Linked DNA regions of Homo sapiens: regions 2 and 3 are each linked to region 1. Evidence: fine-mapped expression QTL. A gene starts in region 1. Each other region holds a variant in brackets. All regions are shown on one strand. Distances are between the middles of the regions. Region 1 holds the start of LMO4 (LIM domain only 4). Region 2 has its middle 28 kb from the start of LMO4. Region 3 overlaps LOC107985408 (a long non-coding RNA gene).

Region 1 (8,184 bases):
GAAACAGAACACCTCCTAGAAGCATTCATGTGCATCAGTCTATCAAACCATTTACTCAAATTAAATGTGTAATCCTTCAAATGCCTCCTTTCAAATTAATGAGTTTAAGTAGCTTGAGTTCACCTGAAAAGATCCTATAGGCACCTGACCTCCTGAATTCTTTCCATTAATTGCACTGCAACTTGTTGGAAAAGACTGCTTACATGGACATATGAATGTTCCTATACATTGCTTTAAAATGCAAGATTAGTATAATTCTATAGCCTTTTTCTAAATCTCTTTTGGGGATCAAGGGCAGTGATACAAACGACAACAAAAAACCCAAAACCTGAACATGCTTCAATTGAAAAAAACTGCAAATTCTACATCGCAAACCACACACTAACTGAATTATTGCAAGCCTCCGAGTAACAGTATGAAGAGAAACATTACCACCAGGTTTTATTTCTTGGGACTTTTTTTTTCTCTATAAGAAGAATTACAAGTCTTTAAACTGATGGATAATTAGCATTTTTCTCAAGGAGCACAAAGAACGAATCACAGCCTTCCGCTCAAAAAAGTTTCAAGATGCTTATGTAAATATCGTTAATAAGCCATCGCCATAGACAAATCATTTCTCACTAACTACACTTGTATTTTTAAGTCAACCTTTGTTTCTGGGTTCCTCTGTGAGTTCCTACCTTGTTTTAAGAACGCAGCTTAACTCCCGCTTGGGATGTTTGCTTTTAGCCTGAAGTCCAGTAGAGGCTGACCACTTACTTAAACTCTAGGACCAGAGGGTGCTCAACCTTTGCACATCTAATGACCCAGTCCCACCAGATGGTCTTTACTTAGTATGGCATTTGCCATGAATTTGCCATCAGATATTGGAAGACTAACACATGCTTCCTGAACCCCTTAAATTCCGCCAACTAGAAGATTTTTGAGGTGAAGGCTGCATACTCCCCGTAGACGCCTACTCCTTTCCTCACAACCCTGTTAACCTTTGGCCTTGCCATTGCTCTTCCCCCCATCTCCAGGAAAGACAGCAAAGTCTTACCTAATGTAGTCATTTCTGCAAAGGATCATGCCACTTTTGGTGTAACAGGACGTGCCGATGTCGCCCAGCTGCGCCTGGCAGCAGGAGCACTTGAGGCACCGGCTGTGCCAATAGCTGTCCATGGCATAGAGCAGAAAGCGGTCCGCAATCTTGCCCCCGCAGCCTGCGCACCGCTTCCAGGAGAGGGAGCCGGCCGTCACCGGGGGCGGCTGCGAGCTGCTGCCCGGATTCACCATGGTCTGCAGAGGGCGGGAAGGGGACAGGGAGAGAAAGACAAAACAGGGGCGATGCAAAAGTTAGTAATCGCCGGAGAGAGAGCAAGCCCATTCCCCTCCTCCCCGCGGAGCTGCTGGAAGGAAACAGCAGGGCAAGGGCGGGAAGGAGGCTGAGGGGGAGAGGGAAGAAGGGAGGCTCGCCGGCAGCAGCCGCCTGTTTACTTTTCTCAAGCTTTGTTCTGGGGCCACGAGCTCCTCTCAACTTTCCTGCGCTTGCCGCCGCTGACAATTTCAGCTCCGGTACTGTCAAAACTCCGAGAGCAGGCTCCGCTGCGCGCTCCACCCCTCGCGGCACCTCCTCCCAGCCCCCGCCTCCGCCCACTGCCCCCTCCTCCCCTCCTCCGCCGCCCGCCTCCAGCAAATGAGGGTCAAACCCACCCACCGCCGCGCCCGGCCCCTCCCCAGCCCCCGCCGGGCCCCGGGACAGAGCCGAGAGGAGTGGGGAGGCGGCGGCCCCGCCGGAGCCTCGTTCCCTCCCGGGTTCTGCCCCGGGAAGTGCAGCTGCAGTTCACAAGTTGGAAATAGTTCGGTTTTCCGAAAGGGAACGAGGGAGGGACCGGCAGACGGGAGACGGAGAGCGTGGTGATGGGAGGGAAGGCAAGGTGACGGGAGGGGTGGGTGCAGTGTGTAAAGTTGCGAAACTGGTTTTTCGTATTTTAAGCAGCACCTTTCACATGCCATTGTGGTGACCGCCATCTCCCATTATTGTTCCAAATCTCATTTCATTTTGAAGATCAATGAGTGTTTTCTCTGGGTTTTCAGGACACAGGCAAGAATAATAGATCATTGAACTTTAGGATGCCTGTTAACTTCCTATACAAACACTCTCCACTTTGGTCTCACTAATCTGCCCTTGATCAGCAATTTAAATGCTAAAGCTTTGTTCCTCCAAAGGGCGGGGGGGGGGGGGGGGCGGGCGGCGTTACAGATAATGTGCGAGAAGGCACCATTAAGGGATGCACAAGTTAAATTCGAGCCCGTCCTGCTGTCACCAAAAACTGCTTTAAAAAAGAATTCCCCACTCTAATGAATGCCACAAGAGATGCAACTGGGATATAATATAGGAATCAATTTATAAAGCTTAGCCTAAACCGATTAATTTGTTGCCTTCAATCCCGAGTCCAATAAAGTCCTAGTGTTCCTCTAGTCACTTATTCTGTAAAAAGATCAAGTTATTTACTGCCAATTAAGCAGCCTGTATTGTCTTTGTCCTCTGTAAGCTGAGAGTGTGGGCTCCCCCTGAGGCTCCCGGCTATCTGCTCAAGACATTCAGCTGATACCTCAGAAGAAGGCGAACTTTGCCTGTACCCGGCCCAACTTGGCTGCTGCAAAAAAAACGAGGAAGGAACGAAACAAGGACTCGGGTTCCTTAAATAGGCCGATTTTAAACACATTTCCTCCGAAAGAGTCCCGGAACGTGTGTCCAGTGACCGCACAATAAACCAGAATAAGAACTGCACCAATTAAGCTGTAACAAAACCCTGAGACTTTGGAAACAGGACCACTCTAAAACCCATTAGCATTGCATTTATCCGAATGCATCATACCTTTATGTAAATTGATTTATCTGATGCATTTACTCGAGGAATTGCTTTTTGTTACAATTTCAGCCCTAACCCAAATGAATCTGCATTTCCTGCCCTAGATCTTTAAACTGTTTCCCCCAACGTTTTAATCGCTCCGAATTCCTTTTTAAAAGGAGAGTGAGGGAGGAGATTCCAAGCTCTTCCCCGCCCCCATCTTTAGTGAGAGGTAAATATATATGTATTTTTTTTTTGAAAAGGAAACATTACACTGAGAAAAGCATCCAGTAACCCCATTAGCTAAAGCTCTTAAGGACAAGCAATACCTTAATGCTGATTAAATCTAAAAGAGATGAATCAAGAAGACTGACCAGAAACTGACTCCCCTGATAACTAAGGACGGGCCCTCATCAAGTTTCATTTAGAGTTGGAAAAAAAAAAAAAAAAAAGAAAGCTTTTAAGTTAAATAGGCTTATACTCTAGTAATTACATAGCCAAGCAATTTAGGTCCTGGGATAGTCAGTGAAATAGAAAGCAGAACTGGCAGCTAGAGGCAAAATCTGCCCCCCTTTAACAACGTCTCTGGTGTTTTTTAATGGAGACCAAGGGAGGGACAAACGTAACGCTGGCAATTTGTAGTACAAAAATGGATGCTTAATTCATGTCTTGATTTTAATTAGGTGATTCACCGTATTTCTCCTGGATTGGAACAAAAGACTTATAAGCCAAGAAGAATTTTTTTAAAAGAACCAGCAATACCGAATCCTGCTCACTTAGATCCTTCCTGCCACTGTTTCAAAAATAGTGTTTACTAGAAGGGAGGGGGGGTATCGTGACTATCCCCACCCCCACCCCCCCAAACACACTACTTCTCATACTTAAAATCCTCATCTAAGCACCCCTTGCCTTTCCCTTATGAACTAGAAATATCCCCACCCCCTCTACGGTCCCCACCAGCCCCGTTTCCAAGAAGAGCCCTTTTGTAAGCAGGAACCGCTACAAAGCTGGCGGCCCGGGGCTGCCCTCCGCGCTAGCTCGCAGGCCGGCCTCGGTAGTTTCAGACTCGCGCTTTATCTAAGCCGACGTATTGTTTACTTGCAATTTGGGACGGTCAGGGGAAGGAAGCCAAAGAAAACAGCCCTGGCCCGAATCGACCCCCTCCCTCCCTCTCCCACCTCCCGGCCCGCGGCTCTCCACCCGCCCCCTTACCTGCTTTTCCCCTATATTGCAATATTGCGAGAGGCGGCGGCGGTGAAATGCGAGCGAAGCCGCTCGGCTTCCAGGGAAGGGGCGCCTGGGCTGGCGGAGCTGGAGGGAGGGAGGGAGTTCTCGCAGAAGCAGGAAAGGGGAGGAGGGGGCTAAGGGCGGCTTTTTTTTTTTTTTTAAATCGCGTTGCTCTGGGGCGGGTTGGGGGGCCCCCGCGTAAGTGCCGGGCGGCCGGGAGCAGAAGTGTCAGTCTCAGTCTTCGTCCTTCTCCGCCTCCGACTGCGCGCGAGCAGCTGCAGGAGCCCTCGGCCCGCGCGGCGCGGCTTCAGGCGCGGCGCAGCGGCAGCAACTGCTGCAATCGCTGCTGCAAGTTTGGCAATGTGGCTTCACTTTGTATATTCCCCCGCCCGGGGGCCCCCGCCCCCGCCCGCGCTCCTCCCGCTCCTCCTCCTCCTCCGCCGCCGCCTTCCTCCCTCCCGCGCGCTCGCTCGCTTGCTCGCTCCGGGATGGCAGCGGCGGCTCGGCTGAGCTCCCTGCACCTCCGGCCGGGAGCAGTCGCAGACACAACAGCCCCGGGAGCGGCGGCGGACGGTGCGGAGGCCGGCAGGCAGGCGCACCCAGGCGTCGGGGGCTGCGGCCGGCCGGGCCCGGCGCGCTGGAGCCTGCGCCGCTGCCGGGGCTGTTGCTGCCCGGCTCGGAGGCGGCGGCGGCGGCGGCGCTGGCCTCTAGCCGGCTCGCTCGCTCCCTCCGCGGCTCTTACACATGTGTTACTGACAGAGCAAAATCCCAACTACTCCCCGGCTCTGCCTCCGACGTCAGCGACCCTCAGCCACTGGGCGGCCGGATTGTTCAGGCGGAATAATAAAACCTGCCAATCCGGGGAAGGACAAAGGGATGACTGAAACGAGACTCGGGGGGCGGGAGAGAGAGCGAGGCGGCAGAGCTGGCCGACAGAGGAGAAGGGAAGGGCCCGAATCAGGTGGGGTGAAGTGACCCGGGCGCCTGGGGCCGGGGACCCGCTTGGGCTGCCCTTCGCGACCCGGGATCCGGAGTCGAGACGCAGGGCGGGGCCTCACCTGCCTTCTCAGCGCACGGGGACCCTGAGGACCCGCGCCCGCTCGCCCCTCGGGGACTGCCATCCCCTCTATCTGAGAGGAGACCCTTAGGAAACTTACCATCTTTCTCAGAAATGGGTCTCTTCCTGTTTGGGAAGATAAGTCCTGCATCTTAGGGCAGTGGACTTCTATCCCCTCACGCACAAGCACACAGAAGAGGATTTTTGTTGTTGTTTCTTTAATTCACGATATTGGAGATTTATGAACCGTAGTGGAAGCTTAGTTAACAAGGTAGAAACATAAAGGAAATAATAGTTGCTAGCTAAATACTGCCTACTTAGCCTCCCTCATACTCCCATTTTTCCGAGTTTGAAAGTGCCTAGCAGGCATTTCCTGGATCCTTGTCAATTGCTGGTGATGTAGGGAGCACAGTCCTTATTTTCAAAGTTGACGAAAACTTAAGGGAGAAAGCCTTTCCCGACTACCCTCCTCACTGTGGAGGATGAGAGGCGGAAATTCTCACAGCCCCCAAAAGCAATGGAAGTAATTGCAAGATTTGCAATCTCACAGCCTCTAGAGAGTAAGAAATGTCACTTCTAGTATAAATCAAGTTTTGAGGAATGCTTTTAGGGTGCTAGCCTGAGAGTCTTTTTCCAAGGCCGAAGCACAGCCTAGATGCTTGAATACCTAGGCATTCGACTTTATCTACTCTGCCAAATAGGTTAAATAAATCTCCAGACTGAGGCTAATATTAGGCCTGATTATTGTTAGTAAGTTCCAGAGAGATTTTTCTGGTGGAAATTATCATGAAAGTGCAAAGCCCTTCTGCTAAGTATCATTAAGTAAAACCAGCCTTGTGGGGCAAGTTTTCATATTGTGTTACACACAGTACTGCTAGATTGAGGAAAGGAACCTGAAGGAGAATCTGGCGAGACAATGCAGATGTTGAACATTTAGGGTTTTAGTGTCTATTTGGGGGATTTCTGTCTTTCAAACCATCAAAATTAATAAGGCTGCATAAGAAAGAATAATTATTGCCCATACAGTCAGGTAGAGGGCATTTTAAATATCAATTCAAATACTCATTTTTTAATTCTAGCACCTTAAAATTAAATGAATTAATTTTATTGATTTGTATTTAAAGTTGCACTGCTATGATGAATTCACCTTGTGCACATATAAAAAACTTTTTTTAAAAAAAAGTCATTAAAACTATAATAGTAATTAAAATGTCCTACACAGAAAACAGCTACAGATGGGCATGATTAAAGAGGACCAACTTAGAAAAGATGTAATGCTGCTTGAAGGTTAGTCAAGAAAACTCAATTAAACCAGATGAGGAGAGGAACACCATAAACAAATAATACATTTGAATCCCCTGGTTCATTTTCACTTTTTAAATAATTTATAATAAAAGGAGATGACACAAGATCTTAGTGGGCTACAATTAAGTTATGATTTGTCATGTGCAAGTAAATTTCCGTCTCTGGGCCTTAATTTTCTCATCCACAAATGAGAGAATTAAGCCAAATGGTCTTTATTTTTTCTTTTTAAAAATGATTTTCTTAGATAGAGCACATAATGCATAGATGTATAACGAATTGTGGTACTTTTCAGGATTTTTCCTGAAGAATATGCACTAAAACGAAATCTTAATTCCTGAAGGAAATGTTAGAAATTTAACCAGACACATGTTCAGCTATCATTGAGTGATTATCCAGAGGATCCCGGTGGTGTTTGTGGAAGGAAGGAGAGTGAGATGGATAAAACTTTGAATAACAGAGCTCTAGGCTACAGGGCCTACATTTTAGGAGGTGGTTTTAGTGCTTCAGCTCTAATTCTGTGCGGAGTGAGGTCTTTAAACATGTCCTGGTAGATTGGAGTGGATGGGAGTGTATTACCAGAGAGCTTTATTTGCTGATGTGTGTTTATAGAAATACAAAAGCGATAATGGCTAACAGTCTCTCTTCTGAGAGGTAGGGAGTAAATACATTCACTGTAATCAAAATTCAGGTGTACTTTTACCACAGCGCCACCTCTGGGTAATCTTTATTTCTGCATTCTTTGCGTTTAGCAGTCCTTTCTCATCCTGATTTGTGGTCTGAAAATGCCTGGTTGAGTGGGTAGCAACGTCAATCTTTTATTTCCACTGATGCGAAACACAAAAACCTTGTAAACACACACAAATTCAGTATGGGTAAAGAAATTCTGTATTCGGATATTCTTCAAACAAATATTAAAAACAGTGCATAAAGTAATATTCCTGGTATGAAGTAAAATTGCCTAACTCGAAATAATGTTATATTGTGCCCCACAGTTGACGAAACCTCTGCTGATATCACACATTCATCATTCATCCTACTCATCTGCAATGAGATATAAGATTAGGGGGCTTTGGAAAAGAAAGATAAATGTAAATCGTTTCTTTCTTGAATCCTAATTAAATGTGGGAACCATACTGCTCCTAGATCAAGCCGTCATTTTCTCCACTTGCCCCAAAATTATTTGTTCATAGCTTCCTTTCTCGTTTATGTCCTTCAATCATAATCATTCTTTTCTCCAAGTGACAGTTCGCTAAGAATCTCCCATGGACAGCCAGAGGTTCTACACAGACCTATGCAGCCTTTAATGTCTGGAGAAAGTCTAGGCTATTTGATGCTGATATGACCTCCAAGACAACATGCCCCAGCTCTTTCTCAGGAAAAAATATTCTGTCCTTTTAAAGTCAATGCAAAACCGTTTTTGAAGAAAGTCTTTTTAGGAAGGAAAATTTTTAAAAATCTGCTCAACTTTATTGCTGCCATCACAGAGATCCCTTGATATTCAGTTTCCTCCAACGTGAATACAAAAAGCTTGAGTCTAGGACAACAATTCCAGAGTGTAAAAGGTGTGGAGAGAAAAGGGAACAGTAGTTACCAACAGAAAAAACCCAAGGAAGAGGAAGGGCAGGTTAGGTCCTGGGCCAGTTTTCTGTGGTGGCGTTGTCGTCTGAGCAGCAGGGTGTATGGCACAGTAAGTATAGTCGGACCTGCTGCTTCATTTAAGAATAGGAGTTTACAGGCCCAGTGGCCCACGCCTATAATCCC
Region 2 (8,184 bases), 28 kb after region 1:
CACTAATGGCTCTTGACAGCTGTCATAAGACCCTTCATTTACAATCTTCAGAAAAAGGGAAGCTAGAGTCTGCCATTGAAACCTCAGTGTTTCCCAATCAGAAACAAGCAAGCTTGCCTCTTAGAAAGAGACAGGGACTAAGGTAAGGGAAAGTAGAGTAGATTTAAGTGAAATAGGAAGTTTCAAAATCCTATGTTTGGCTGAGCATGGTGGTGGACGCATGTCATCCCAGCACTTTGGGAGGCCGAGGCGGGAGAATCGCTTGAATCCAGGAGTTTAAGACCAGCCTGAGCAACAGAGTGAGACCTTGTCTTTACAGAAAATTAAAAAAATTAGCCAGGTGTGGTGATGAGCACCTGTAGTCTCAGCTACTCGAGAGCCTGAGGCAAGAGGATCGCTTGAGCTTAGGAGGTTGAGGCTGCACTGAGCTGAGATTGAGCCACTGCACTCCAGCCTGAGCAACAGAATGAGACGCTGTCTCCTTAAAACAAACAAAACCAAAAATAACCCCATATATTTGATATGATCTCATTTTCATTTTTGAAAATAAAATATTTGCACATATGTGTATATATGTGTATGTTGAGCATTTTAAATTTGAAAATCCGAAATCTGAAATGCTCCAAAATCCAAAACTTTTTGAGTGCCAGCATGATGCTCAAAGGAAATGCCCATGAGAGTATTTTGGACTTTGGATTTTCAAATTTGGGATGCTGAACTAATAGGTATATATAATGAAAATATTCCAAAATCCAAAAAAATTGGAAATCTGAAACACTTTTTGTTCCAAGCGTTTCAGATAAGGGATATTCAAACTGTATATATAAAAAAGCTTAGAAAGCTTATAGACCAAGGTGTTAATGATGATCCTTCTTTTTCATTAACTATATTTAGTGCTTTTCTCTAATAAAATATGCATCATATTTATAATATGGAAACTTTTAAAAAATATTTTTCAAAAACGGAGATGTTAAAAATTACTGACAGCTTCTGCATCTGTAAAATAGGAGTAATAATAGACCTATCTTATAGGGTTGTGTTGGGGACTAAAGGGGTTAATATACATTAAACACATAGTTCCTGGTCCCTGGTAAGTATACATAGCTTTTGGCTATTATTATTAACTAGGAGGACAATTATCTTACCTGTTTCACTTAAATTAATGAAATTTATTTAAAAATAAAAATAAAAACATGTTTTTAAATTATTGCTACATATTGCAGCTGCTTGAGAGCTCTGAGGATGAGGCCTATCCTCTGTTAAGAAAAAGAACTAAATTATTTTAAAAGTGTTAAAGATACATAGCACCAACTGAGATAGTCTCCTAGAATTAATATGAAGGATTGAAAGTGCTTTAAATGGAATAACTTTCTTATTAAACAAAGCAATATATTTTAATAACTGTGTCCATGGAACACCCCAAATCACCTTAACTATAGTGTCCCACCCTTAGGACACATTGATAAACTGTTGGTGCCTAATGTGGAAACTGGACTATGGGACAACATGTGGATTCAAAGACAGGGGTATCAGGTTGGTTAGTCAGATATAGGATACAGGATCTCATTCTTCTGGTTTCAAGCAGCTAAAAATTCAGTCATTTTGGTAAAATCTTGCTCTCTTCGTTGCTGTGGCAAGGTGTGGTGTCCATGTGAGGCAGCTACCCTTTCCCTTTTCCTCAACTTTTTCCTCTCCTTAAATGCCCTCCCTACTTCCCACTGGGCTTCCCACAGGAAAAGGTGAGCCAGATCCCTGCTAGGCACTGCGAGCAAAGTTGCTCTGTCTCTCTGGTTCCTTGTTCTTGTCTGCTGTACAGTGGATCAGCCTTTTCTAGCATCCTAACGGTAAACTCCAAAACTGGTGCGTGGGTGCGGAGAAAGAAAAGAGAGCAAACATTCAAGCCTGCTGCCATCTAAGGCTACCCAGAGAGAGAGAGACACATCAGAGGGAGTCCACCTTCCATGCGGTCCAGCCCAGCCTTCCAGATTTCTCTGCATTGGGATTGAAGGCCAAAACTCTGGCTAATAATTAAGTATAATGTCCATTCATTTCTTGTTCCCCCTCATTTTCCCTCCCTCAGAGTGACAGTGCCTCATCAGAAAGGATTTCAGGATTCCTGGGTCCCTGAACATAATATCATACAATATCATCCCACGGTTACCCCAGCATTAAATCGTGACCTACTGGCTCTCTCAGGGGACCTTCCAGAGCCAGTGTGGCTCTGACTGTGGGACCATCAGGCTCAGTGGCAGGTTGTGGGAGGAGACTCTTGAGCACAGGTGGTTAGCCACGATTCGATGGGGTGGCTTCATTCCAGAGTGTGAGCTTGCCGTGCAATTTTGGAGGAAAACTTCCGGAGGAGGCATTTATGGTGGAGTTTTTGCTTTGTTGCCCATTCTGTGACTCAGATGGGAGGACAATCAAAACTAGGACAGACAACAGTCTGACAGAAGTACCCCAGGCACATGCCTGGCCAGCACCTGTCAGGATTAGAGCAGCCTCTCTGGAAGTCTTTTTCAGTGATGTGAAGCCAATGCCATTTTTTGTTTGCTTGTTTTTTTTGTTTGCTTGTTTTTTTTGTTTGTTTGTTTGTTTCTTTTGAGATGGAGTGTTGAGATGGAGTTTGGAGTTGTTGCCCAGGCTGGAGTGCAATGGCGCAATCTCAGCTCACTGCAACCTCCACCTCCTGGGTTCCAGCGATTCTCCTGCCTCAGCCTCCCAAGTAGCTGAGATTACAGGTGCCTGCCACCATGTCCAGCTAATTTTTGTATTTTAGTAGAGATGGGGTTTCACCATGTTGGTCAAAGTGGTCTTGAACTCCTGACGTCAGGTAATCCACCCACCTCAGCATCCCAAAGTGCTGGAATTACACGTGTGAGCCACTGCGCCTGGCTAACCAATGTGGTGGTTTTTTTTTTAAGTTTTCAAATTGTTTTTTTCTATTCAAAATGAAAATAGCTTTATTGAGTTCTACAAAAATGATACATAGTTTTTCTATATATTATTTATGTATATCAATCTAGGTTATGTTCTTAGAATGTCAATAAAAATATTCGCACTGCTTTTATCAGACACATTTAGAATGACGTGTCTCTGTTGGTTTAAGACATTTTCATGATTTCCAGTTGTTCTTCGGGTGAAGACTAGTATTCATGCTTCGCCTTCCTTTTCATCTTTATCCCTCCCATGCCCCTTCCCTCTGTGTTGCTGCCACAACTGAAGCCAGGGTTAGTACATTCCCCTCAGGACAACATCCAGCAAGGCCCCTTTCATCTCCCGGTGTACACTGGTCCAGGTCTCCTTCATGGGCCTCCTCATCCAAGGTTGAAGATACCCACTCTGCTTGGCAAGGCAGGCAGCGGAGTCCTATAGCCCAAAGCAGCCCAACTGAGGCCAGCTTTCTGGAAGAATCCACAGCCGGGGCAGCACTGCATTCAGATAGCTCTTCTATCAGACTCATTACCAGTGATTCTGGAAAGCTCCTTCCCTGAGTTTTCTCTTCAAATGTCTTTGCCATACCTGAGCTGAAGCTCATCATTAGAAAGACAGGAAGGCTGAAGAAGCTCAAGAGGTGGCTTTTTGCCACTCCAGGCACTTCACAGCCAGCATTGTCCCTCTACCTCTCCTTGACCTCCAGGCCAACAAAAGGATGAAGACAGGAGCTGCCGACTTCCACTTGGTCCATACTTTTTTTTTTTTTTGAGATGGAGTCTTGCTCTGTCGCCAG[G/A]CTGGAGTGCTGTGGCGCAATCTCAGGTCACTGCAACCTCTGCCTTGGTCCATAATTTCACAACAAACCTATCTCTTGGGCAAACTGAGAACCTCAAACCCCCACTACCCAGAAATGGAACCCAATCAGTGTCCCCAGTTTACCACAGGATTGCCTTTTAAAAATCACTCCTTGGGCCACCTGCCCAGCATCTATCTCCTCTCAACCTTCTATGATCTGACTGGTAGACTCAGGGGTCCTGAGAAACTGCATCTCTGAAAGTTTGAAAATCTAATTCGTGCTACTGTTGTTCAATGATGGTAACTCATAACCACTGAATTGGAACTCATTAGCAGGGCAGCATTAAGGAGTTGCTGCCGCATTTGAAATCCATTTCTTGGGGGAGTCTGATTGCCTTCAGGGACTTTCTCATGGGGTGATTGAAGTCACTCCCTTTAGAAAACAAAGTATTCTATATAACCACCTCAAGGCCCCAGCCTGCTTTCTTTTAGGAATTTAACAGAGGCTTATATAAGGTCCAATAACTGAATTAATTAAGAGTAAAATGAAGATGGTGACTTCATATTTCTTTGGTCAGTGAAAATTTTAACATTCTCATAACCCTTTTTATTCTCTCTTCTCTTTGTGAATGCTAATAGAAAAATCCTTTTTAAATGGTATTTTGTTAGCAGGGGCTATGCCGACAACTCCACAGTATCTTCCCACAGATCACTGCTCACATCATTCAGATGTTGAAAATTTTAAATGAAATCAATACTGGCCTATTCATGTCAACAGCACTATCCCTGGTGATGTAAAAATATAGAGAGAAACTGCAACCCAGGCTACTTACCCAGCGCTCTTTTCATTACAGGTCGTCAATTAAATTATTTCTACAATATTGTATCCGTCCACAAAATGTTACGCAATATTCATGCACATTACTTCAGCTACACAGAATCCCTGTAAAATAAATGAGGGCGGGCAAGGAAACTGAAGAGACCTAGTAAAATAGGAAGGCATTTATAGTAAGTCCAGTCACTTGGCCGCCAAAATTGCCCCCACGATGATGCTTTTATTATCACTTGAGAAACAGCAATGTCTTCATTCTTGTGATTCCAAATTATTCCATGCTATAGGAAAGAATATCCTCAGAGAGATTTCTTGTAACAGTGAGTGGGAACTGTAACTAGGAACTTGAAAGTCAGCCTCGTTTGCAATGGACCAAGCTGGTGGGCTTTCAGAGAAGCTGGACGTGTCTCTGTTTCCCCGGATTCAGTTGCAGCGCCAGATTCAGAACCAGGAGCCCATTACCAGTCAAATCCTCCAGGCTTCATTGATGATACCCCAGGAGGTTCTGCAGCTCCAATTGCCCCTGGCGCTGAGCAGGGGAAGCCAGTGGACTGTGCTAAGGCTTGGCCCCGGAATTAGTGATCCAGCCAAGATGCATCTCGGCAGGAGGATGAACTGATTGAATCAATAATTTCAATCACTGCCTATTCCTGGTAGAAACCAGGGAGGGCAGAGGAGGACGGGGGAAGGGAAAACCCACAAGCCTGGAGAGGCCAGGGCTAAGCCCAGCCTGAAAAGAAAACAATGAAAACATCCCCATAAGGAGAAGAGGATTGGAAAGAAGAAAAATGGACCAGGTTCACTGAGTAAGTGCCTAGGAATTATCCTCACCTAAAAGAGCCAACCTGCAAGCAATCTGCCATCTGAAAGCCACCTCCTTCTATGGGGCATAGAATTTTGAGGCTTTTATTCTGAGGATGATGATTACTATGGGTTTGGAAATGGCCCACAAAGCCTGCTGCTCCCAGTGCCTTGCCTGTGACTTCCTCAGCTATGTGGCCATCTCTATATGGCTATGTCAAGCCACATGATCTGCCTAGGCCTATTTCCTCCTGTTAGCTATATGACCTTTTTAGGCCTATTTTCTGCTCTTGAAAGGGAAGCCTGAATCAGATAACACTTTGAATCCAATCCTTCTGGGACTAACATTGGAGAATTCTGTAGGCCCGAGTTTTAGCTTGCCTGCTGCCATCACTGCCTCTCTGGCTGGTCTGGTCCTGTCTGCAGTGGAACACAGGCACAGATGGTGAGAGTAGCAGGAGCTGCCTCCTTTAGTAAGACTAGCTGCCTTTTATTGAGTGCTTACCATGGAAGATCTCAGCCAAGTTTAATCCTCCTTGGAACCTCCTGAGGCATTATGTATGTCCCCATTTTATAGATGAGGAAAGTGAGGAACAGAGGAGTTAAGTAACTGTCCTAAGTCACCGAGCTAGTTCCTAGCAGATCCAGAATGAAAACCTGAGTCTGTGAGGCCCCAGAGTCAGAGCTTTTAATGGCCAGAGTATACTGCCTCTCTCCCTCTTTGCTCCTTAATGGAGCAACTTGGGAATTAAGTGCCTTCTTTTGCAGGGTGACCTTCAGCCACCAGCTGGAAATCCAGGAGGGGCCTCAGCCAAGTTTACTCTCGGCACAATAAGGAAGCAGAGGGCTCCCAGGGACGTTCTTCCTCACCACCCATCTTCTCTGTCTTCCATTCCCTATGCCCTGCCTAGGAGTCTCAGCTTCATCCGCCTTATCCATGTCCCGGCCATCTTTGCTGACACAATCCTCTCTTCACTCACCCCCAACACCTAGACCCCAGGTCAGAGGATGCTAGCTCCAGGTCCCCATCCTTCTGGGCCTTGTTCTCTGCTATGAAGCTGCCAACAAGTTATGCCACGGGTGTAAGCATCAGGTATAGAGCCTTTGATAGCGTATCCCATGCCCCCATTTGTTTAGAACACTTTGGAAAACAATGCTTTTAATTCAAAATTGCAGGTCAGAATTTTTGGCCTCAGGAAAGGTCATTTGAAGGAGACTTGGGAGAGGAGCAAGTCTGCTACATCTGCCACCAATCCAATCAATGACAGAGGGTGTCTTAGTCTCATTGAGTTGCTGTAACAAAATACCATACATTAGTGTCTTATAAACAACAGGAATTTATTTCTCACTGTTCTGGAGACTGGGAAGTCCAAGATCAATGCACCTACAGATTCAGTGTCTGGTGAGGGCCTGGCTCTAGATGTGTCCTCGTGTGGTAGAAGCATCAGGGGAGTTCTCTAGAGCCTCTTTTATAAGGGCACTGATCCCATTCACAAGGCTCTGTCCTCATGACCCAATCATCCCCCAAAGCCCCAACTCCTAATACCATCACATTGAGAATTATGTTTCAATGTATGAATTTTGGGGAGACCCAAACACTCAGATCATAGCAGAAGGCTACTCCAATCACTCACGAAACTCACATGACCCACCCCAGGGACTTCTCAGGTCACGTTGCAGCAATTGAAACACACCGAGAAAAGAAAGCTTCAGTCAGGAAGGCTGTTGGTGGCTTGAGCAGTAGGAAATAGAGAATAGGAACAGATGACATAGGAGGTGGCCTGGCTCTGTTTCTAAATGCCAGAGTGGGAGTGACCCCCAGACTTCCTGAGAGATCTACTTGGAGCGTGTAGCACATAATTAATGGAGCCCACAATTCCAACACACTGTTTTTCAATTCAATTCACCAAAAAATTTTTAAGAGCTTGAATGCGTAAGGTCCTGGTCTTGCATCTGGAGATGTGGACATGAATAAGACATGGTCTCTGACCCTAAAAACCTTAGAGTCTAGTGGGAGAGACAGACACACACAGAAGTAACCATGATACAAAGCAAGCGGTGATTAGTGCTAAATAGAGATATACACAGAGGACTGTGGGGGCTCAGAGGTTGGCTGATTATACTGTCCACAGAAGGAATTTGCAGAGGAAGGGACCTGAACTGGGCTTTCAAAATAAAAAATGCAGAAGCCTTGTGATATGGTTTGGCTGTGTCCCCATCCAAATCTCATCTTGAATTATAGCTCCCATAACTCCCACATGTCATGGGATGGACCCAGTGGGAGGTAATTGAATCATGGGGGCAGGTCTTTCCCATGCTGTTCTCATGATAGTGAATAAGTCTTACAAGATCTGATTATTTTATTTTATTTTATTTTTTTGAGATAGAGTCTCACTCTGTCGCCCAGAGTGGAGTGCAGTGGCATGATCTTGGCTCACTGCAACCTCCACTTCCTGAGTTCTAGTGATTCTTGTGCCTCAGACTCCCAAGTAGCTGGGACTACAGGCATCCACCACCATGCCCAGATAATTTTTGTGTTTTTAGTAGAGGCAGGGTTTTGCCATGTTGGCCAGGCTGTTCTCAAACTCCTGACCTCAAGCAATCCACCCACCTCAGTCTCCGAAAGTGCTGGGATTACAGCCACCGTCTCAGCCAAGATCTGATGGTTTTATAAACAGGAGTTCCCCTGCACATGCTCTGTCTTGCCTGCTGCCATGTAAGACATCCCTTTGCTCTTCCTTCATCTTCCACCAAGATTGTGAGGCCTCCCCAGTCATGTGGAACTATGAGTCCATTAAAACTCTTTCCTTTATAAATTACCCATT
Region 3 (8,184 bases), 180 kb before region 1:
TAGATAATTTTGAATAATCCCAGAATTTTGCTGAGACCCTTTATCTTCATTGTAGTGGATGCTGTGGTGTGCTGCCCATATCCACCCTACTGAGACTAAGACTCATTCCCTCGGCCACCAAAAGGGTTGACCATACATAGTGCTCAGCTGAGTCGCTCTCTAGGAGTTGCCTTAGATAGCCACCTTACCTAGGATGATACCCCATCCCCTAGGGCCACCCACATCTCATGATGAGTCAATGTGATCCCCTAGCCCCAATACAGGGCAACTCTGCAGAGCTATCCCAGCTCCAGAGGTCCCCAAAGGAGCAGGGCCACAAGATGCCTAGGCTTTTTGTAACTGCATCACTATTTGACTTCTCGCTCTCCTGAGTCCTGTTCCCTTCCTTCCCTGCAAAGCGAGGGCACTCACTACCCAGTGCTCTCCCAGAAACTTCTTCCTGAGGAACCTGACTGACAACATGGGTATATTTTAAAGATAATGGATTTCTAAACCAGAATCAAATACACAGCAGTGTGAGGACTTGTTTTCATTCTTCTTTTCAATATGACTGATAATTTTAAGCTTTGGGCTAGAGGGAGCCTGCATTCTAGAAAATGGTTTTCAGAGGTGACAAGGGAATTTTGTTGAGCCAGGTAAAGAATATATAAACTTTGCTCTTTCAAACACACTTAATTTTACAGTATTAAACACGGTATCATCCTGAGCCCCCTGCCAATTCTGCATCAGTTGACGTGTGAGGCCCTGTATCAGAAAAGGTAAAGAAACTGCTAATACTCCCCAACCACTCTAATTTTTCTACCCTTTCATACTCACTCTTTGAGTTTCTCATCTCCTCTGAAGGTCAGCCCTGGGGGTTTCACTCTCCCACTCTCCTCTTGATATCTTTGAAGACAAAATCCTGACTGGTGGTGTCAAGTCTTATCATCTTTTGTGTAGTAATGAAGCCAGGAGGGAGAGTAAGCACATGTTTGACAAATCCAAGATGCAGCTCCTTCCTCCCTTCTGTCCTGGCTGGCACAGTTATATCTAAGCATCCAGCCCTCCCGCAAACAGGTGTGAGCTCAGAATGCCCATGTTCTCCTCCCTGTGTTCTTCCATCCTGTACAATTCTTCATGCCTCTAAACCTGTGATTCTTGTTCTGGTTTTGCAATACCTGGGGTTGTCTCCATTTATCTCCAGGGATGTTATAAAAACCAAAAATGATTGAAATAGAGAGGATTTTTAATTTATTAACTGAGAAATGGATATTTCCGATAACACTCTTAAAAGGGAGGGAAAGTGATATGAACTCAAGATAACAGCCCTAAGTTTCACAACTCCAAAGCTATTATGAGTCATTTTATCAGTCTGACCCACAATTACTGTCTGTGTCTCTCTGATTCCATTTATGCATCCAGTGAAAAGACAGGAAGACTGCAGGACGATTCCGGAGTGGTATACTTTTGAAATCATTAACTATATCAACACTCTTTCCTCAATAAAGTGTGAAATACCCAAATAAAATTGTCACCCTTTAGCCAAAACACTTACATGTCTCTTTGGTGGCCATGGTATGTTACTTCATTTTTTGCAAATGGTTGCTTAGTTATAAGCCTGTAATTTTAATATCCATCCATAATGACCAGGTAAAACACATAATCTGACAAAAATGTTGAACCAGAGGGTAGGAGTGTAACTATAAGAGAAAGAGGACTGGGGTGTAGGAAACGTAATCATATAATGGCTTGACGTTCTCTATTTTCCAAAGGCTTTATTGAAGCATTTCTCTCAGTAATGCTGCTTTTGCAATTACATAGCAACAAAGCATTTGAAATAACTTTTTTGACATACTAAGTATAAAAACTTAAACTGAGGTGGGGGGTTTATAGAAAGCAACTTTCTTCACATGCGTTCTGCTCAAATGCTAAATGCTGCTGCAAATAACAGGAAAGATACATTCTCAAAGTTAGGACAGGCTATGTCTTGGCTGGGAAAGGGTTAAATAAAGGGAACCCGATTCCAGCCAGTCAGGGACTGAACATCCAATGAGAATTTATTTAGATGATGTAATGCTTGAATCCTGATATCCTTTTGAAAAGAGCTTGTGGTTGAAGTTTCTATAAACCAGACTGAACTGGAATTTCCTCCCAATCCAAGAGTCTTCTCTGCCTTCTGCACCATTTTCTTAGTAGTGTCGTACATTTTCTTTCCTAATGTTTGACAAAAAGCACATTTGTAACTATGGTTTGCATTTGGATCCTTTAAACGATGCTAGTCTGTGGCTTTTCATAGGCCTCTTTAATCCTTACTTGGTAATGACACAGGACTAACTGCTTAATAGAAAATTCTGAAAGACACCATCTCATCTCTGCCACCTTACTGACTAAATGCTGGCTCTTTCCATTTATGGCCTTTCCACTGATCTCCAGAGTTGGGAGGCTCATGACAAATGAAGACAGAGACCAACACTTTCAGCTACATAGCAAGATGGAAAGTTCCTGAGGGCTGTGTGGCAGCTATGGTTGCATTATCCTCTTTTCCACTAGGATGCTGTTGACAACCAAATAAGTAGAACAGTTCCAGATGACAGCAAGTCTGGTGAACTCAGGACACCTACTCAAGAAAGCTCTGAAACTCTGTTCACTCTCTAAGAACCTTCACAACTATCGTTCACTGACCTAGGGACAGACAGTTGTACACATGAAAAGACAAGGGCAATGTGCTCGGGGCTTTGTTTTAAGCTGCCTTTAAGACTTAAATCCTGGAGCTATCAAAAGAGTTAAGTTCATGAAATGGCAGGAAAGTTAAAGATTCTTAGAGCATAGCATAAATTGGCACATCTTCCAACTTAGTTGAGAAACAATGACCTTATAAGAACTATTTTTAGACTTAAAGAAACCTTTTTCTTAAAGAATTAATTCATCATTTACTACCCCGTGAAATCAAACCTCAAAATCTTGTGGTTAACCAATAATCTCTTCCAACTTGTTCCATTTGGAATAAACTAAAAAATAGCCACTAGTTTTCAAAAGTAAATGTATGCCAAACATCATAGCAATAAATGGGCTAATATATGTTTAGAAACAAAAACCTATAAAAATTGAAGACACTGCTATTTTTAAGATGGCTGGCTCTCATCATCATTATTGTCCACCTGTAGCATAGTGTCCAAGAGGACAGGAACTACCTCCTTATTGTAACCCTAACCATTAGCACAGTGCCTAGAACGTTATAAATACTTGATACAGATTTGATAAACTGAATTTAAATTTGTATTCACAAATATTTAGTAAGCATCTATTATAGAAAGCACAGTGCTAATAGGTGATGGCAAAAAGAAGTACAAAGACAAGTTTCTACCTTCTTTAGGAGAGGACTCAGTGTAATTAATCTCGAAGAGCTTGTCAGTCCAAATCACAGGGATGATTGTTGCAACCACAGATGCCTTCTGAATTGGGCTAGACAGTGTTAATAAGTGCAAGCAGGCTACTAATTTTAAGACAATAGGGTATCATAGGGATAGTAGAAAACTAGAGTGCAATCCTTGCTTAAAATTATAGTTA[T/C]TCAACTTCAAATATTTTGTAATCACTGAACTGACAAAAATAGTTTTTTCAAATTTCTAGCAGATTACTGAACCATGAAGAGGAATGAAGTTCTGATACAAGCAACAACGTGAATAAACCTTGAAAACATTATGCTAAGTGAAATAAACCAGACAGAAAAGAACAAATATTGTATGATTCCACTTAAAATATCTAGAATAGGCAAATTCATAAAGACAAAAAGTAGATTAGAGTTTACCAAGGGTTAGGGGGAGGAGGTTTTGCTTAATGGTTACAGAGTTTTTGTTTGGGGTGATGCAAAAGTTTTGGAAATAGATGATGGTGATGATTGCACAACATTGTAAATGTAATTAATGCCACTTAATCACTCACTTAAAAATTGTTAAAATGGCAAATGTTACGGTATGTATATTTTACTAAATTTTTTTTTAAATTCTGGCAGATTCTATGCAATCTGACTGCCCAGTTGATACTTTTGATTCCTAGCACAAGGCTTTGTCCAATAATTGTTTGTCAAACACAGTCGACCCTCCCTATCCCTATGAGTTCCACATAGGGGATTCACCCAACCTCAGATAAAAAATATTTGGGAAATAATAAAAACTAGCATTACAACAATAAAAATAATACAAATAAAAAATACAATATAGCAACTATTTACATAGCATTTCCACTGTATTAGGTATTACAAGTAATGTAGAGATGATTTAAAGTATCCAGGAGGAGGTACATAGGTAGTACACAAATTTTTTTTTTTTTTTGAGACGGAGTCTCGCTCTGTAGCCCAGGCTGGAGTGCAGTGGCGCGATCTCCGCTCACTGCAAGCTCCGCCTCCCGGGTTCACGCCATTCTCCTGCCTCAGCCTCCCTAGTACCTGAGACTACAGGCGCTAGCCATCATGCCGGGCTAATTTTTTTTATTTTTAGTGAAGACGGGGTTTCACTGTGTTAGCCAGGATGGTCTCGATCTCCTGACCTCGTGATCCCCCCGCCTCGGCCTCCCAAAGTGCTGGGATTACAGGAGTGAGCCACTGTGCCCGGCTGGTATTACATAAATCTTAAGTCATTTTATACAAAGGACTTGAGCATCCTGAGGATTTTGGTATCCGTGGGCATCCTGGAATCAATTTATCAAGGAGCAACTGTAAATAAAAAGTTTTCCCCACCCCCATGACATCACAGAGTTTAGTGGGAATAACACAATATGTTGATTCACACAGCTATTGTCTGGCTATTTACTAGCTATGTAACCCTGGGTAAATCACCTGATCTCCCCATACCTCAGCTTCCCTGTCACTAACATGGGGATAATAATCAGGCTTACTTCCCAGGATTATAGTCAAGATTGTATGAGATAATGCTTGTAAATCTCTTTTCACTGTGGCGGGCTTATTACTATTATTAGCCTGTTATTAACATTAGAAGACTAATAAGAATTATTATTATTATTAGGAAAACTAGAAAATGAGTTGCATTTTGCTCTTAACATAATGATTTATTTATCTGACAATGGTTTTCTTAGAAACTACAGACACATCAGTCGGGCGTGGTGGCTCACGCCTGTAATCTCAGCACTTTGGGAAGCCAAAGCAGGTGGATCACCTGAGGTCAGGAGTTCGAGACTAGCCTGGCCAACATGGTGAAACTCCGTCTCTGCTAAAAAATACAAAAATTAGCCAGGCGTGGTGGCGGGCCAGCTACTCGGGAGGCCGAGGCAGGAGAATCACTTGAACCAGGGAGGCAGAGGTTGCAGTGAGCCAAGATCTTGCCACTGCGCTCCAGCCTGGGTGACAGAGTGAAACTCCGTTTCAAAAAAAAAAAAAAAAAAAGAAACTACAGACACATCAAGGTAGAGTTCACAATGATGTTTTTGAATAACCAAAGACATTACTGACCTACTGAAAATCCTTTAATGACTTCCTGTCATTTTAAGAAGTCCCAAATCCTATAGCACAGGCCTGTCTTCACCTTTTCAACCTTGCAGTGATCACTGTGGCCCCACCATCATCCATTCTGCACTTCCTAGCAGCCCTGATTTCTGTTTTGTAATCTCTGTGATTCCAGGGAAGCTGACTCTTCCCGAAGCTCCTGAGATAGACCATCTGGCCCAGGCCAGGCTAAGCAGGCCATTCCTGCCTCCTCAACACGGTGCATGGTTCAAGACAGGGCATGTGACCTCCACTGCTCCAATCAGGGTGATTCTCAGGCCTCGTACTAGGAATACCATAACAAGTTTCTTTCTCTTCTGGATGGTATGGAAGGCAGGTATGAAAGCTGGAGCTGCTGCAGTTACTTCGCTACCTTAGGAGACACAAGTCAATATGTGGGGGAGATAGGGCCAAGAAAACTAGAGAGCAATAAAGAGCTCTTGTTAAAGTTATGAGTAGAGCCAAGCTACCTCTGAAGCATTCTGTTTATTGAGCCAATAAATTCCTTTATGTTTGCAACCAAAAAGTCTTAACTGTTTTTTTAAGTCTCATCTTGCTGCATGGTTCTCCACCCTGCATTTCAGCCACACTAATCTGATTTGTATTTTAGAACCCTACTAAGCTCCTTCTGATGAAGCATTCTCACCAATGCGCTCTCTCTCCTTGCATTGTTTGTTTACCACCCTCCCTCCTGCCATTTCCCTACTCCACTTGCCCTGATTAATTCTTGTTCATCCTTAATAAATAGTTCAGCTCAAACGTCATTTCTCCAAGAAGGCCTTCACAGATCTCTTAATTTAGGTCAAGTTCTCCTAAACACCCATAACAATCTATACTTTTTCATAAGATTTATCACCATGGTAATCAGATAATTGTCTGATAAGTTGACTGATGTCTACCTTCCATGCTTGACCATCTTGTTCATTGCTGCTTTTTTTTTTTTTTTTTTTTTGAGATGGAGTTTCACGCTCTTGTCGCCCAGGCTGGAGTGCAGTAACATGATCTTGGTTCACTGCACCCTCCACCTCCTAGGTTTGAGCAATTCTTAAGCCTCAGCCTCTGAGTAGCTGGGATTACAGGTGCCCACCACCACGTCCAGCAATTTTTGTATTTTTAGTAGAGACGGGGGTTTCACCATGTTGGCCAGGCTGGTCTTGAACTCCTGACCTCAAGTGATCTGCCCGCCTCGGCCTTCCAAAGTGCTGGGATTACAGGCGTGAGCCACTGTACCCGGCCCCACTGCTGCTTTATCCCTAGTGCCTAACACAGAGCCTTGTCCATAAAAATAACATTACATAAATATTATGTTAAAAAATGACTACCTTTTTGTCCTCAAGGCTAATTCTTAAGTCTTCAGGAAAAGCAAAAACATTTTATAAGCAAACCAATAGCCAAGAAAAGAGGAGTTAAGATAAGAACAAGCTGCTGATTCTTGGCTATGGATGAAAAACTACATTCAACAAATCCTGGTTGGGCACCCGTTCTGTACAAAACAGGGACTACAGTATAGAAGACATCAGCCCTGCCCACCAGGAGCTCTTTACTGGCCTTTAATTAGCTGGGCATAGAGAATGCTGCTGCTATCAGATTCCAAGTCTCATCTATTACTCATTGCTTTGGTGCTTACTTCAAGCAGGGTCAAACCTACATTTAGCCTTTAAAAAAAAATTTGGCTTTGCCTGTGTCCTAAATAGCAGAAAAACACATGCTCTCAAGTCCTCCTTTCTTACAATTTCTTTTGAATCTGCCTTTAATCTCTAATGCTTAGAGACAAAGAGAAGAGCATTAGTTGCCTTCAAGCCTACCCTCTCCAGGCGTACAAAAGCATGTTGTAACAACCCACTGTCCACATGCAAGTCCTACTCCAATACCATCCAGCAGTAGGAGGTGACCAGGACTTAGGACTAAGGCACGATTCTGGGCGGAAAGTGGGATCCAGAAGTCAGAATCCATTTTCGTTCCAAACCATACAGAATAGTGATGGCTTTGGTATCCGAGAACAGAGCCAGGCATGGAATCACACAGACTCTCATTCAAACCTGGGTTTTGCTATGTAAAAGTACCTCACCTCTTAAAGGAGACGAGATAAAATATGTGGAACACTTTGCACAAGTCTGGCACACAGCACTCACACATTTTTAGTGCTCTTATTATTGTTAAATCCTTTGGGAGAAAAGATAACAGATTAGAGTGTAGACTTCTTTCCCTCAGCTTTTGTTTTGAGCTCAGGCTGCTTTATTCAGTGATGACCTGTATTGACTTCATAAGCAGATACTTCCTTGGAGATTTTAGCTATATTTTCCCCCTGGGCCCACTTTATGCTGAAACAGTAGCACGGATGGTGAGACAGTTTAATGCCATTGCCTTACCTCCTGATAACAGTGTGGTTGACATGTCAGCCCTCCATGTCAAAATATTATGACAACCATAATAAGTAAAATAAATTAAAAACACTTATTGATTTTAAGTGTTATCATTTCCTTCTACTATCAATGACATAAGATGTCAAATGTGATATATTTGAAGTATATTTTAAGCAAGATAATTAATGAATTGGATTTTGGAGTTGATTATTTAACATACTTTATGCAATTTGATGAAAAATCCCCATATGTAGACACAAATCAACAGAAGCTCCTGGCCATGAATATTGTAATACACAATCCCAATGATACCCTTCCTACCAAGGCATCATGCCCATACACATGAGC

Evidence for each region. PIP is the estimated chance that this variant, and not a neighbour inherited with it, causes the effect.
Region 2: its variant is fine-mapped to the expression of LMO4 in monocytes (TOPMed, PIP above 0.99).
Region 3: its variant is fine-mapped to the expression of LMO4 in whole blood (TOPMed, PIP above 0.99).

Annotation. Positions count from the first base shown.
Region 1 is chr1:87,325,107-87,333,290 of GRCh38, reverse strand. It overlaps LMO4 (LIM domain only 4), which reads right to left and starts at 4,411. Exons shown (of 5, transcript NM_006769.4): 1 at 4,047-4,411; 2 at 1,040-1,278. The coding sequence starts at 1,275. RefSeq lists enhancers at 651-1,289, 1,290-1,928, 1,929-2,567, 2,237-3,782, 3,348-3,923 and 1 more and silencers at 1,621-1,980, 3,347-3,436, 4,360-4,789, 5,040-5,209, 7,179-7,228.
Region 2 is chr1:87,297,248-87,305,431 of GRCh38, reverse strand. No RefSeq gene overlaps it. Among named protein-coding and RNA genes, the nearest start is that of LMO4, 28 kb to the left of the region's middle. The variant G/A (reference allele first, on the strand shown) is at 3,728.
Region 3 is chr1:87,507,328-87,515,511 of GRCh38, reverse strand. The region is part of intron 2 of LOC107985408 (a long non-coding RNA gene); the gene reads right to left. Among named protein-coding and RNA genes, the nearest start is that of LINC01364, 140 kb to the right of the region's middle. The variant T/C (reference allele first, on the strand shown) is at 3,547.